Linked DNA regions of Homo sapiens: region 1 is linked to region 2. The links come from fine-mapping of genetic effects on gene expression. Tissue or cell type: whole blood. Region 2 holds a variant in brackets; the other region holds the start of a gene. All regions are shown on one strand. Distances are from middle to middle.

What was found. PIP is the estimated chance that this variant, and not a neighbour inherited with it, causes the effect.
Region 1: CTSL starts here. The variant in region 2 is fine-mapped to the expression of CTSL in whole blood (TOPMed, PIP above 0.99).

The regions. Positions count from the first base shown.
Region 1 is chr9:87,721,860-87,729,711 of GRCh38, forward strand. It overlaps CTSL (cathepsin L), which reads left to right and starts at 4,260. Exons shown (of 8, transcript NM_001912.5): 1 at 4,260-4,539; 2 at 5,735-5,870; 3 at 6,168-6,290; 4 at 6,391-6,537; 5 at 6,726-6,950; 6 at 7,714-7,852. The coding sequence starts at 5,745. RefSeq lists enhancers at 587-636, 4,051-4,572, promoters at 2,466-4,333, 2,684-4,305, 2,788-4,333, 2,800-4,232, 3,002-4,333 and 7 more and cis regulatory regions at 2,466-2,787, 2,855-2,857, 3,249-3,251, 3,317-3,319, 3,476-3,663 and 12 more.
Region 2 is chr9:87,835,847-87,843,698 of GRCh38, forward strand. It overlaps the pseudogene FBP2P1. Among named protein-coding and RNA genes, the nearest start is that of SPATA31E1, 43 kb to the right of the region's middle. The variant T/G (reference allele first, on the strand shown) is at 4,531.

The DNA of each region.
Region 1 (7,852 bases), 110 kb before region 2:
ATCAATGTCACTTAGGGCCTTGGAAAGACATTCAGGAAGGGAGTTACTACGCCTGAATTTCTGGAGATGTGTTTAGTAGGGAAGAATTCACTATAATCCATGAATGATTGATTGATTTCTAGAAAGGCTCACGCATGTTTCTTTTTGCCACTCAGGACTGGACCTCTGAATCAGTGCGGAATATGAATGAGAGCGGTCAGGGGAGAACTGGAGGATGCTGGTGGAGGCTGGAAGGCTTGCAGTCACCTGCCTGTGCTTATCTAAGTGATGAGAATGTAGGAGCAGCAGGACCTGGCCCATCACTACCCTATGTTTGTTACAGGAGAGAGGACCGTCCTCCCACAGGTCAGAGCTATTGTTAATCAAGGTGACAGTGCAAGATGCATTCCCACTCCTGACTTCTCGCTGTAAATAGGTTTCCTGAGTGGTGTTGGTTTATTTTCAATTTGGAAGCCAGTTCAATCAAATGTTTCACTAGATTCAAGTTTGATGAAAATACTAGCAAATCCCCCAACTAACGAGTCACTATAAGTAACTCAAGGCATCAGTCCTGCTCCCCACATAAGGGAGTACTGGTCCTGAGGAAATGGGACCACATATATAGGGAACAAAAGTGATACAATGGGCCATGAGGGTGTGATGAGTATCCCAGTGATTGCTTTGGGTAAATTTTGCTGGCCACATCGGTTTCAGTTCCTCTACATAGACAAGGAAATGCTCCTCATGACCGACAACAGCTCCTCCTGCACCGAGGCTGTCTAGTCATTAGAATGGTCTCTAGAAGACAATATCATCAGCAATCACTGCTAGCAAGGAGCTGGCTTCTGTGGTACTATGTTGTTGCTAATAGTTTTTGTTAGAGCAACTGCATTGTGGGAGACCTGATCCAGGGAAGGCAGAAACCAAAGCCTGTGCTCCCAAGGAGGTTATGGAAAATGAAGAAAAACACCAGCCCCTCTGCAGGAGGAAGCTGGAAATGGTTGGAAGGACCACCCATGGCTAGAGCCCCAGCACTTGGGTCATGACTCACCCTGGGTAGGTCAAGTACAGGCCCCACTTCTTCAGGCCTTGGTTGTGGATCAGACCCTGGATTCTTCCCCTCCGGGTACAGCCCAGTTGCCATGATGCTCCTTGAGTCAATGAGCTCTTTGGTCTGATCTTCTGCTCAAGCAAAGAAAGGGTCCGGCTTCAGTTCTCAGAGGCTGATAAGTACCAAGGTGGCAGAATATGGGAGTATCCTGCAGGTGCTCCCAGCATCTGCCCTGGCTCAGGTGCCAGAGGCTTGCGATTTTCTAGCTCTTGACCTCACACCCTCGATTGTTTGTTTTCCAATTCCTTCCTGAATAACGGGGTGAACATGCCACCCCTCCTGGTGGCGAATGGGGTTCCTCAGAACTGGGAGGCCACAGTCCAGATTCTGAGGCTCTTCACTAAGCAAGTGCTGGAGAGCAAAGCCACTCACTCACAACTCTCTCTCTTTCTCTTTCAAATTTGGGGAAGGGGAGGCCATCTGAGCAGTTTCTCTCACACTCCCCAGTAAGGAACTCATGAAGGACCAAGTGAGCTCTAAGCCCCCGGTAGAAACATTCAGCTGTTCCAATGAACTTCTTGTGATCCTGAAATCTGCAAAGTTAGAACCAAGGCAGACGTAGGTACTCCAGTTACCTAACACCACAGAAATATTGTTTTTATTTCATAAAATAATAAATTTAAATACTGCTATGGTTTCCTTGTTTGCCCCCTCCAAAACTCTTGTTGGAACTTATCTCCAATGTGGCAGCATTAAAATGTGGGGCCTTTAAGAGGTGATTAGGACATATGAGCTCTTCCCTAATGAATACATTAATCTATTCATGGAATAATGGGTTCATAGACCAACAGGTTATCTTGGGAATGGGACTGATGGCTTTTTTTTTTTTTTTTTTTTTTTTTGAGATGGAGTCTCGCTCTGTCACCCAGGTTGGAGTGCAGTGGCGTGATCTCGGCTCGGCTCATTGCAACCTCCACCTCCCAGGTTCAAGTGATTCTCCCGCCTCAGCCTCCCAAGTACCTGGGATTACAGGTGTGCACCACCACGCCTGGCTAATTTTTGTATTTTAGTAGAGACAGGATTTCACCCTGTTGGCCAAGCTGGTCTCAAACTCCTGACCTCAAGTGATCTGACTGCCTCGGCCTCCCAAAGTGCTGGGATTACAGGTGTGGGCCACTGCGCCCAGGCAGGACTGATGGCTTTAAAAGAAGAGGAAGAGACCTGAGCTAGGACACTCAGCCCTCTCGCCCTGTGATGCCCTACACCACCTTGGGCCTCTGCAAAGAATCCCCACAAGCAAGAAGGCCCTCACAAGATACACTTCCTGGACCTCAGACTTCCCAGCCTCGAAAACTGTAAGAAATAAATGTTGTTCTCATAAATTACACAGTTCCAGGTATTCTGTTATTAGCAACAGAAAAGAGACTAGGACAGATATCACAGTTAGATTGTATTCTACACATTGTGACTGGTTCTCCAGAGAAGCAATGCATAAAAAGAGGAATAATCGGCCGGGCACGGTGGCTCACACCTGTAATTCCAGCACTCTGGGAGGCCAAGGCAGGCGAATCACGAGGTCAGGAGTTCAAGACCAGTCTGGTCAATATGGTGAAACCCCATCTCTACTAAAAATACAAAAATTAGCCAGGCGTGGTGGTGCGCGCCTGTAGTCCCAGCTCCTCTGGAGGCTGAGGCAGAGGAATCACTTGAACCCAGGAGGCAGACATTGCAGTGAGCTGCGATTGCGCCACTGCACTCCAGCCTGAACAACAGAGCCAGACTCCGTCTCAAAAAAAAAAAAAGAGGAATAATCTCCAAAATAGTAAACAAATTCCTGCAGACAGGAAATATAATGGTAGATACCTGAGCTAGGAGAGGGGGAATGGGGAACTATTATTCAATGGATACAGTTTCAGTTTAGGAAGATAAACAAGCTCTGGGAATAAACAGTAGTAATGGTTACACAATGTGAAGGTACTTAATGCTACTGAACTCAAAGTTGGTTAAAATGGTACTTGCTATGTGAGGTATATTTTACCACTTAAAAAACTATAGGTGATTGTGCTTCTAAAAGAGTTATCAGTTTAATCTTCAATAGAAATCAATGGACTTTGTTCATTTTTAACAAAGTCAAAATATGCATACGAAAAGGTTATGGGGTAAAGGCAGAGGTAATTATTTTTTTCCCCGAAAGGTATTTTCTACAATGAATGTTTTTATGTAATAAAAAATGAAATGACAAAAGTTTAGAATGTTTGTGGGTTTTGTTCCTTAAATCCTTAATTACATAAATTAATATCTACATTATACAGATTAAGATACATATTTTTCCTCTATCTACAACATTTCTCCATTCTCTGTATCTTAAATCCTGACATTAAATGTCATTAAATTTCTTAAATCTCAAGAGAACGACTTGGTTACCAAGGAAGATATAATCCATAGCCTAGAGAGTGGGCGAATAAAAGCAGCTTCTAATGTTCTCAACTGCTTTTCTCCTGTCAACCAAATGTTTCTGTAAATAACTCATTTCTGTTGGTTTTGGGTAAGACGTGGGAGAAGGAAGAATCCCTGAATGGAGGAGTCTGGAAAGGATGCTTGACAAAACGCCCGCGCTCTCTGGAGACGCAGCCAGTCTCCTCCCTCCTAGGGTCTGGTCTTGACGATAGCATCTCGTGTTTTGGGGATGCCTTTCCTTACCAGATTCTTCTAAAGCCCAGCTGCACCCACCCTTAAGTGGGAGATAAGGCTTCTGCCCGCGGGCTCTGCGTTCGTCCACCCGGCCCCACGTTTGCTGTGGACTAAACAGGAGCCACTGGACTAGAGTACACTTGACTCTCGGCTCTGCGGACCAAAAATTCCAGGACTAAGGAATAGCAAGGTTAGGCTGAAACAGTCCACACAGGGCTTGCGGTAAACGTCTTTTCAGGAGCCACTCGCCCAGTGCAGTAAGTCGTGTACTTAGTTGACTCGAGCGCTCCAGGGAGACGCCCGACCCTACTCTGCGCCGCCCCGGGGCACCAGCTCTGCTTCCTCCAGGTCCACTGAGGCAGGCACGCCCAGCTCTGGGACAGTCAGTAAACAAGCCACGAACCGCGCCAGGGATCAGAGCACCCAGAGTCCCCGCCCAGCTGCCGGCACAGCCAATCGCAGCGCAGCCAGGCGGCGGGGCGGTGCCGGCCGAACCCAGACCCGAGGTTTTAGAAGCAGAGTCAGGCGAAGCTGGGCCAGAACCGCGACCTCCGCAACCTTGAGCGGCATCCGTGGAGTGCGCCTGCGCAGCTACGACCGCAGCAGGAAAGCGCCGCCGGCCAGGCCCAGCTGTGGCCGGACAGGGACTGGAAGAGAGGACGCGGTCGAGTAGGTGTGCACCAGCCCTGGCAACGAGAGCGTCTACCCCGAACTCTGCTGGCCTTGAGGTGGGGAAGCCGGGGAGGGCAGTTGAGGACCCCGCGGAGGCGCGTGACTGGTTGAGCGGGCAGGCCAGCCTCCGAGCCGGGTGGACACAGGTACCGCAGCCAGGCCGCGCCGCGCCGACTCAGGGCCTGGCCCGGCCAGACAGGGAAGCTCAGTCCCCGCACGCCAGACAGCGGTACTCCTGCTGGCGTCACCGCAAACATCCTCTGACCGCTACAGCCAGTGTGTGGCGCAGGCGTCATGTCCCCGGCCCTGCCACGCCTGGAGCCCTGGAAGCTGGCTGCAGGGCGCTGGCTTCCCGCGTGCGGCCATATGACCCCGTCCCTGATTTAGGGGAGCAGTTTGGGGTGTCGGCAGCACAGGCCCAAGTGAATGAAGGAGGGAGCAGTGCGTGCTCTCCTTCCCAGTTTTTCCTGGGAAAGCATTTCAGAAAGGTTTCATTTAAGGAGAGGTTGGGGCGGCGCGGTGGCTCACTCCTGTAATCCCAGCACTTTGGGAGGCTGAGGTGGGCGGATCACCTGAGGTCAGTAGTTCGAGACCAGCCTGGCCAACATGGTGAAACCCCGTCTCTACTGAAAATACAAAATTAGACGGGCGAGGCGGCGCACGCCTGTAGTTCCAGCTATTCAAGAGGCTGAGGAAGAATGGCTTGAACCCGGGAGGCAGAGGTTGCTGTGAGCCGATATCGCGCCGTTGAACTCCAGCCTGGGCCACAGAGCAAGACTCCATCTCAAAAAATAAATAAATAAATAAATAAATAAATAAATAAATAAATAGGAGAGATTGGAAAACTTATCTCAGCTTTTGGTGTTTGTTAGTCAGGAAGATGTGTGAAGGCCTCCTAACTCTTGGGGATCTCTTTGTCCCTACTTGGGAATCCCACCTTATCATTAGTGAGGTTTTGCCTGGGCACGAAACCTGGATTTTTTGCGATTGGTACAAAACCTGGATCAACCGTTTCCCGGTTTCCTAGTTGTTGCCTTAAGCTTCTCACACACAAGGTAGTTTCATACCGTTCTCATAACCTAAATTGTCATCGCATAAACTGTTTCAGCTCCTACAGCTCTGGACAGGCTGCTTTTCATTTTGGTGAGTCCATCCAGTACCTCCACGTGCCCTGTTTTTCTCCAGGCACATCCTTGGCCTCTTCCACAGTCCTTGGGTAAATGCTTGGGAGAATAATTTAAATATTTTTATTCTACCATGGTGGCCCTAATTTTTCAGGGGGCAGTAAGATGGCTTTTTAGGATTGGTCTAATCAGATCCTCATTTTTGTTCCCTTCCTAGGTTTTAAAACATGAATCCTACACTCATCCTTGCTGCCTTTTGCCTGGGAATTGCCTCAGCTACTCTAACATTTGATCACAGTTTAGAGGCACAGTGGACCAAGTGGAAGGCGATGCACAACAGATTATACGGCATGGTTAGTGAAACTTCCCCAGAAAGAATAGTCCTGGCTGTTGAGAAGTTTTAGTCAGAGAGTAGCTTCTAGAGGCCAGCTTTTACCAATAGCCTAATGTAATAACCTAATGGCGTGGATTATGAGCACAATGTGGACATTCATCCTTGTTGTGTCTCAGTTTGGAGAACAGCATCCCCAGAGGTGTCAAGCCTTCCCTTGCCATGGTTTCTCTTCCATCTCTGTCTGCAGATTCACTTGGTGAGGATGAGTTGGGTTTTAGGTAGAAGTAAAGAGCATCAGTTACATGTTTGCCTCTAGAATGAAGAAGGATGGAGGAGAGCAGTGTGGGAGAAGAACATGAAGATGATTGAACTGCACAATCAGGAATACAGGGAAGGGAAACACAGCTTCACAATGGCCATGAACGCCTTTGGAGACATGGTAAGTGTGCTGTGGACTGCCGAGCTCTGTGCTTCCTCTCTTCGGTTCTTTACTAAGGTAATCTCTTGCTTTTCAACATTTTATTTCCTTTTCCTTGAAGACCAGTGAAGAATTCAGGCAGGTGATGAATGGCTTTCAAAACCGTAAGCCCAGGAAGGGGAAAGTGTTCCAGGAACCTCTGTTTTATGAGGCCCCCAGATCTGTGGATTGGAGAGAGAAAGGCTACGTGACTCCTGTGAAGAATCAGGTGAGACAGTGTCAGGTTCAGACCTCCCATCTTCCCAGGAAAGCCAAGAAGTGATTGACATCTTTGTTTTGGTAGACTTTAAAGTGATGTACAGTTCACTTTTTAACAGTATTCAGATGTGTGAGCTGTTGTCAAAGTCTTATTATTTTTTTTTTGTGGATGACAGCTTTTTTTAATTCCCTTTTCAGGGTCAGTGTGGTTCTTGTTGGGCTTTTAGTGCTACTGGTGCTCTTGAAGGACAGATGTTCCGGAAAACTGGGAGGCTTATCTCACTGAGTGAGCAGAATCTGGTAGACTGCTCTGGGCCTCAAGGCAATGAAGGCTGCAATGGTGGCCTAATGGATTATGCTTTCCAGTATGTTCAGGATAATGGAGGCCTGGACTCTGAGGAATCCTATCCATATGAGGCAACAGTAAGTGGAGCTCCTTGTCATCATTCCAGCTCAGCTTTTGGAAGGTGGACACTTTAAGAGATAACAGATACCTTTTTCGGAATTCATATATTAGGGCTGGGTGGGGTGGCTCACGCCTGTAATCCCAGCCCTTTAGGAGGCTGAGCCAGGCAGATGGCTTAAGCTCAGGAGTTTGAGACCAGCCTGGGCAACAAGGTGAAACCTTGACTCTATCAAAAATACAACGAAAATTAGCCGGCTGTGGTGGTGTGCGTCTGTGGTCCCAGCTATGCTGAGGTAGGGCGATTGCTTGAGTGTGGGAGGTGGTTGTGCAAATGCACTCTCCAGTCTGAGTGACAGAATGAGACCCTGTCTCCAAAAAAAAAAAAAAGTTCACATATTAGATGGCAGAATATATATCTGCAAATTGTCAGTACTGTCATTATAAATTATTAGCCTTTGCACAATCCTGTGATTAGATGGGTAACATATAGCTGTTCTTGCTTCTATGTAACGTGAAGAATATACAAGCCATTCTAAATATACACATTTCTCTATTGTGAAAAATGTCTTATGGAAGTAAACCCAGAGGTCTCATTGAAGAGACTGGAGTCAATTTTCAGTTTCAGATTAACTAATAGCATTTCACTTCCTGGGATGATTTATAACAGTGGTGACTTGGAAATACTAAGCTGCACACTGCTGAGTGTTGTGGTTCTAACTCATGTTCTCCAGGAGGAGGACAGCAGTAATCAAGTCTTTTTTTTCCCTTTACCTTTGAAAGGAAGAATCCTGTAAGTACAATCCCAAGTATTCTGTTGCTAATGACACCGGCTTTGTGGACATCCCTAAGCAGGAGAAGGCCCTGATGAAGGCAGTTGCAACTGTGGGGCCCATTTCTGTTGCTATTGATGCAGGTCATG
Region 2 (7,852 bases):
AAGCACCTCCCGTTGCCTTTAGAACTGCTCAGAATGTTCTTGGAGATATTTTACTTGTACTCAAGAGCAGTTGTTTTTGAAATTCGGTCTGGTTTAGTAGTTAAAGCACAGATTGCCGGAGTGTGACTCCTGACACCACCAGTCACTAGCTTGACCTCAGGCAAGTTACTCACCCTCTATGTGCCTCACTTTCCCCATCTGAAAATGAGAATAATAGTAGGACCTACCTCACAGGGCTGCTGTGATGTTTAAATGCATTAATAGATGTAAATTCCCTAGGACAGGTACCTACATTCCTACAACTTATTAAGAATTATGTTAGCTGTTACTCTATAGCAACTGTAGAAAGGGCAATTTATTGTCTGAGAGTAATATGTGTAAGCCATAGAATTTCTGAGGGTTTGCCAGCTTCTTTGAAAATAAAGGGAAACTGTGGCATTAGCAAACTGACACAGCAGTGGGCCTTGGTCTAATGGGTTTATAGGTGAAAAGATTTGAAAAGTTTCTGGATTTCCATACTGCAAACCCTGTTTTGTTAACTCTGTTTCATTTTGAAATTTGCAATCCCCCTCTCTCCACATACAAACTGACATGTGAACTCCACAAGGGCTGGCATGTGTGTTTGATCAATGTTGTATCTCCACTGCCTGAAATGGTGCTTTGGGATGTAGTAGATGCTCAATAACATCTGTAAATCTAAATTAAATTTAAATACAGACCTTTCATCTAAGTGAACACAAGGGGTTTTGAAGTCGTCATTGGTCAACATTATCTGAGTTTTCACAAGACCTCAGTGTATTTGGCAAAGCATTTCACAAGTGATAAACAAGGCATCCAGCATTTAAAAGCAAAACTCACAGAGCATTCTATGGGATGATGCTGCTCTAAAGCATTCATGCTTCTGTCTGGAAATTCGCAGCATTACGATTCTTAAATCATGGAGTTCTCATAAACCAAAGAGATCGAGTGCATTTTTGAAAAATGAACTCCTTAAGGACAGGGCTTGAGTTGATGCAACTGACTCTGCAGGACACCCCTACCCCGGGTTCCCTCACTGGGACAAAGGCCCTTCATGGTTTCTGATGATGGCGTTGGCTCCCAAAACTAGGTTTTCAGACTCTCTGGCCCCAAAAACAAGTATTAGGAATGACCAGGAAATTATCCCAGGGGACTAGCATTAAAGCACAGAGGCCCATCAAGTCCCCAAGCCCAGAGGCTGCCATATTCTGTACCTACCAAGTCAAGCATGAAGAGGTCCACCCCTTGCCCTGTGGAGAGAGCCACCAGGGTTGTGCTACTGTACAGTGTATAAACTATGGTCACAATGTTGCAGCCAGGCTGCAGGGCATCCCTTTCAGAAGGCTTGTCCTCTGAGGTCTGTGGAAGAAAGGAGAGAAACACGGTGTGTTATTGTTTCAGGAGAGAACCCTTTGTCAGAGGCATGGGATTCAGATCTCCTTGAACCACTGAAGAAAGTGCAGTTCTTAGAATTTTAAGCTGCCACAAATCTATCCAGAGAAAATGAGTTGCCACGTTACCGACAATTCTAGCTGAGCTATGGCAAAGGCCATTTTTGGATTTCTTCCTATTTTCCAAACGCATGTGTCTGCAGCCTGCCAAGAAAAGCACTCCCAGATGCTAAAATCGTAAGCTGCACTCCTGAGCCATGATAGTCACAACTCAGATCACTGAGCGGAGGGTGCAGCGTCTCACTCTGCACACTCAACAGCTATCTGAGGCACATAGCACTGTCACCTTCATGGCTCAGTGGGAGAACTCTGAGAAAAAAACAACCTGAGATGAACAATCTACTGCAGTTGGAACAGCTGCACAACTCACTCAACAGCAGGAAGCCCTGACTCTGCTTTCTCTCTGACTCTGTGGATGCTCCTCATTTGCTTCTCTTCCCCACAGCTCCTCTTCCTCTGGTTCTTTAAATCTTGGTCCTCTTTCTAGTTTTTTTCTAGCCTTTGGTGCATCCAGCCAGTGCAAATGGTTCTTCCTCACCCCCTTATCCAAAATTAGAACTCTTAGCTGCTACGTTTATATTGAGTCACGCCTCCCACCACACAAACACACAGACACACACACACACACACACACACACACACACACACACACTCTTGATGGGGTAGGAGAGAGAGTCCTGACCTAGAATGGCCCAATCAGCCTCTCTCCTCCAGATATCTAGAATTAGAGGACATTCTGGTGATGTAGAGTTAGAAGCCTTGTAAATCTGAATGGTCTCACCCCTATGCTCTGACCTCATGATTTGGTATTCCAGGTGCTTGATGCCATGAGCATCCAGGGCTACTTCTTTGAAGCTCCCAACACATTTTCATTCTTGGGTTTAGTGTCTGACTTCCAAGCTACACTGTAAGCAACCTGAAGGGAGGTACCCACTCCGTCTTGTTCATGTCTGTTTTCCCACCATGTAACACAATCTGGGCCATGATCATTGCATTTAATTAATACAGACAAACACACAGATACATATATATGCAAGTTTATACACACACATAAATATATACATGCATACATGTAGTGCTTTTCAGCATAAGAATCCTACAAACGTTTTTTAGATTTATATAATACTATTTCATTTTTTAAGTGATTAAAGTACATATTTTAAATTTAATTACTATTATGAATTAGTTTATTGCTAATATATAGAAATCCAGTTGGTTTTGTATGTTGATCTTGTGTCCTGTGACTTTGCTGAACTCACTCATTCTAGGGAGTGTTTTGGTTTTTTGTTTGTAAATTCCTTGGGATTTCCTATACAGATCATCATGACATCTGCAAAGAACGACAATGTTATTACCTGCTTTCCAATCTTTTTCCCTTCCATTATTTTTTTTGCCTTAGTGTGCTGACTATGACTTCCAGGGTTACATATGTTGAGTAACAGTAGTGAAGGAGGACATCCTTGCTTTGCTCCTGATCTTAGAGGATAAGCATTCACTCTTTCACCATTAAATACTAATGCTAGCTATAAATTTTTGTAGATGTACTTGATAGGGTTGAGGTAAGCTCCTCCTCTATTTCTTGTTTTCTAAGATTTTCTTTTTTTCAGAGACAGGGTCTTACTCTGTTGCTCTGCCTGGAGTGCAGGGGTGTGATCATGGCTCGCTGCAGCCTCCAACTCCTAGGCTCAAGCGATCCTCCCATCTCAGCCTCCCAAGTAGCTGGGACCACAGACATGCACCACCACCCACCTCTCCAGCTAATTTTTTTTTTGGGGGGGGTGGGGATGGAGTCTTGCTCTGTTGCCCAGGCTGGAGTGAAGTCACGCAATGTCGGCTTACTGCAACCTCTGCCTCCTGGGTTCAAGTGATTCTCCTGCCTCAGCCTCCCAAGTAGCTGGGACGATAGGCGTGTGCCACCATGCCCAGCTAATTTTTTGTATTTTTAGTACAGACGGGGTTTCACTGTGTTAGCCAGGATGGTCTCAATCTTCTGATCTCGTGATCCACCCGCCTTGGTCTCCCAAAGTGCCGGGATTAAGATGTGAGCCACTGCACCCGGCTAATTTTTTTTTTTTTTTTAGATAGGGTCTTTTTACTTTGCACAGGCTGGTCCCAAACTTCTGGCCTCAAGTGATCCTCCCACTTCAGCGAGTTTCTTTTTTAAGTCATGAATGAGTTTTGAATTTGTTCAAGTGGTTTTTCTCCATCAATTGATATAATTATATGATTTTTCTTCTTTAGCCTGTTGATATGGTGGATTACACTGACTGATTTTGAATACCGGACCAGCCTTCTATTACCAGAATAAATCCCACTCAGTCATGGTGTATAATTTGTCTTATGTGTTGTTGAATTCTACTTCTCAATACTTTGTTAAGGGTTTTTTCATTTATTGATGAGGGATCTTGGTCTTTGGTATTCTTTTTTTTTTTTTTTTTTTTGAGATGGAGTCTCGCTCTGTTGTCGGGCTGGTGTGCAGTGGTGCGGTCTCGACTCACTGCAACCTCCGCCTCCTGGGTTCAAGCGATTCTCCTGCCTCAGCCTCCCAAGTAGCTGGGATTACAGGCACTCACCACCACGCCTGGCTAATTTTTGTATTTTTAGTAGAGATGGGGTTTCACCATACTGGCCAGGCTGGTCTTGAATTCCTGCCCTCGTGATCCACCCACCTCGGCCTCCCAAAGTGCTGGGAATACAGGCGTGAGCCACCGCACCCAGCCGGTCTGTAGTAGTCTTTTGTTTTTGTTTTTTTGGAACTATTGTTACCAAAACACCAGGGGTTTGGTCTAGGCCTTGCTGCTTACCACACAAAAAGCCAATCACTAAGACAATAAGTACTGCAAAGGAAGAAGGCTTTAATTGGGTGCTGCAGCTGAGAAGATGGGGGAGCTCAGTTTCAAATCCATCTCCCTGACAGACTAAAACTAGAGGTTTATATAACAGAGAAGAAATGTGACAATGTGCAAGAATACAGGAACTAGAGAGGGGAAAGGAAGCAATAATGAGGAATGAGGGCTCCAGGCTTCTCATTGTCAGGATGTGGTGATCTGGTGACTTTCAG[T/G]TCTCTAATACTCTTTTTGAGAGGTCTGAAGTTCCTTTCCTGAGGAAGGAATTCATATAAAACAAATGTAAGCTTCAAGCTTTAAGAACAGAAAGGTCAGTTTCTATGTTTATCCGAAAGAACAGTCTATGAGATTATTGGGTCAGTTTTACTATCATTGTCTGGTTTTTGTATCAGAGTAATGCTGACTTTATAAAATGAATTGAAAAATGTTCCTTCCTCTTCTCTTTTCTGGAAGAGATTGAATAACCTTTGAACATTTAGTATAATTTTCTAGTGAAACCATCCGGGCCTGGAGATTTCTTTTTTGAATTCTATTTTCTAATAGTTGAGCCCTGAACCTAGTCTTTCAAATTATCTATTTTATATTGGGTGAGTTAGAGTACTGTGCTTTCTGAGAAGTTAGTCCATTTCATCTAAGTTATCAATTTTATGTGTGTAGAGTTGTTTATAATATTCCCTTACTATCCTTTTGATGGCTCCTAACTTTTTGAAAAACAAAACAACCTGAGATTAACAATCTAGGTCATAAATACATGATTCTCTGATTGTTTTCTCAACAGAAATTCCAAATAATTAAATTACTGGGTAAAAAATCTTTTTATACATATTGAAGTTTTCCTCCAGAAAGGTTGCATAAATTTATACTTTTACCGTCAGTGATAAGAGGGTTCTTTTTAATTTATTCTGGCAAACACAAGATAGTATTGTCTTTTCAACTTCATCAGTTTGGTGGAAAAAAGACCTCTTTTTTGTTTTAATTTCTATTTTTATGAGTGAGGTAAACTTTTTAGAGTTTATTGATCATTTTTATTTTGTAGGTTGTATATTTCATGTCTTTTATTTTTCTATCAACATATCCATCTTCTTGTTTATTTATTTGTTTGTTTGTTTGTTTTGAGATGGAGTTTTGATCTTGTTGCCCAGGCTGGAGTGCAGTGGTGTGATCTTGGTTCACTGCAACTTCTGCCTCCCACGTTTGAGCAGTTGTTCCTGCCTCAGCCTCCTGAGTAGCTGGGATTACAGGCGCCCACCACCGTGCCTGGCTAATTTTTGTAATTTTTTTTTTTTCTTTTTGAGACAGTCTCACTCTGTTGCCCAGGCTGGAGTGCAATGGTGCCATCTCACTCACTGCAACTTCCACCTCCCAGGGTTCAAGCAATTCTCATACCTCAGCCTCCTGAGTAGCTGGGATTACAGGCGCCCACCACCACACCTGGCTAATTTTTGTATTTTTAGTAGAGACGGGGTTTCGCCATGTTGGCCAGGCTGGTCTCAAACTCCTGAACTCAGGTGATCCGCCCACCTTGGCCTCCCAAAGTGCTGGGATTACAGACGTGAGCCACCACACCCAGCCTATATTCATATTTCTATTCACAGTATCTCCTACACAGTGTTTTCCTACTCTATGGGGAGAAATCAGGTAGATGGCAGAAGACACAGGTCAGATCTCGAGAAGAGTTTCTATGGCCTCCAAACAAGCATTTATTGATTATAGACTTAGGGGTGGATATTACGAATGTGGGATGTCCCACAAGGTTATCTCCTGTGCTATCTAATGCACCAAGCAGCTTGTCCATAACTTAGTTTAAATATATCCGTCAGGCTCCATGCCCACTTGCTGTAAAAGCAAGATTACTGAGTTAATCTTAGATTTTAAAATGGAAAACTGGGCCTCACAAAAGCAGTTGGAAAAGTTACCTGGAGATTGTTTCTAAGGCAGTCCCCAACTGTACCAAGCAAAGGACAATATGTACAAAGTCAGAGCTTCATTAACTCTTGATGATTGATTCATTCACTTACTTAATGCAAGACTTCAGGGGAAGAAGAATCGCTGAGTGGAGGAGACTGGAAACAATGCATTATGAAGCGCCCATGGTCTCTGGATACCCACCCAGCCAGTCCCCACCCTCCTAGGGTCTGGTCTTGACCATCTCATCATGTGTTTTGAGGGTGCGTTTTCCTACCAGTTGTATTTTGTTTGCTGTTTTTTGTTTTGTTTTGTTTTTGAGACAGGGTCTCCTCTCGCCCAGGCTGGAGTGCAGTGGTGCGATCTCGGCTCACTATAGCCTCGATCTTCCGGGTTCAAGGGATGCTCGTGCCTCAGCCTCCCGACTAGCTGGGACCACAGGCGCAGGCCACCGCACTCGGCTAATTTTTGTATTTTTAGTAGAGACGGGGTTTCGCCAGGGTGCCCACGCTGGTCTCGAACTACTGGGCTCAAGTGATCTGCCTGCCTCAGCCTCCCAAAGTGCTAGGATTACAGGCATGAGCCACCAGCAACATGCCCAGATTCTTCTATACCCTTAATTGGGAGATAAGGCTTCTGCCTGCGGGCTGTGAGTTCTTCCAACCGGCCCCTTCTTTGCTGTGGACTAAACAGGAACCACTGGGCTAGAGTCCTCTGGCTCTCGGCCCTGCAGGAGATTTTAATAAACAATTCTAGGCCTAAAGGAAAAGCAGGGTTAGGCTGAAAATGCACACAGGGCTCCTGTAAACTTCTTTTCATGAACCACCGGCCCAGGGCATTAAATAAGGTACTTAGTTGATCCGAACCCTCCAGGGAGACCTCCGACCCTTCTCTTCGTAGCCCCCAGCTCCCCTCCCCCCGGTTCCACTGAGGCAAGTGGACTGAGCCGCTCCACAGGCTAGGAGTCAGCCCGCCGGAAGGTCCCGCCCAGCCTTAAGAAGTCAATTAGCTGCTTTCGGGCGGCCTTAGGCGACGGGAGACTCCTGGACTCGGCACCTGCCCACTGTGCCTGTCCACCTGTGGCTACTGCAGCTGAGACCCCAGTGGGCTGAGATTGGACAGGGGCCACCAGGGACCCAGCAAGTCCTTCAGCTCGGTGAGTGAGGGATTTTCAGGAGTGCCAGGCCGCAGTATTCCCAGGGCTGGTGGGGTGGGACAGGGAGGCTCGACCCGGGCAAATCAGGCAGAGGCGCCGCTTGCTCCCTGCACCACCACCCACCTCCTGGGGCCACAGTGAGCATGAGCGGGGGGTGGAAGCAAGAGGCAGGGGACCTGGCCTGGGTCCCCAGCCCAAAGCCTGGGAAGCTGCCTACCCCTGTGTGGGCGCGGACACTGGGGACTCTGGCTTCTGGCGGTTCGGCCACCTGATTGGGTTTATGCTCTATGAGGGGAGTTGGAGTGTTGGCAGGACTGGCCCCTGCAGGACTGCAGGACTGCGGGAGCGGCGGTAGATAGGTGCTCTCCTTCCCAGTTTCTCCTGGGAAGACATTCAAGAACTGTTTCCGTTACAAGGGGTGTTTGGAAAACATACTTCACCTTCTGCTATGCATTAGCCAAGAACAAAGTGTGAAG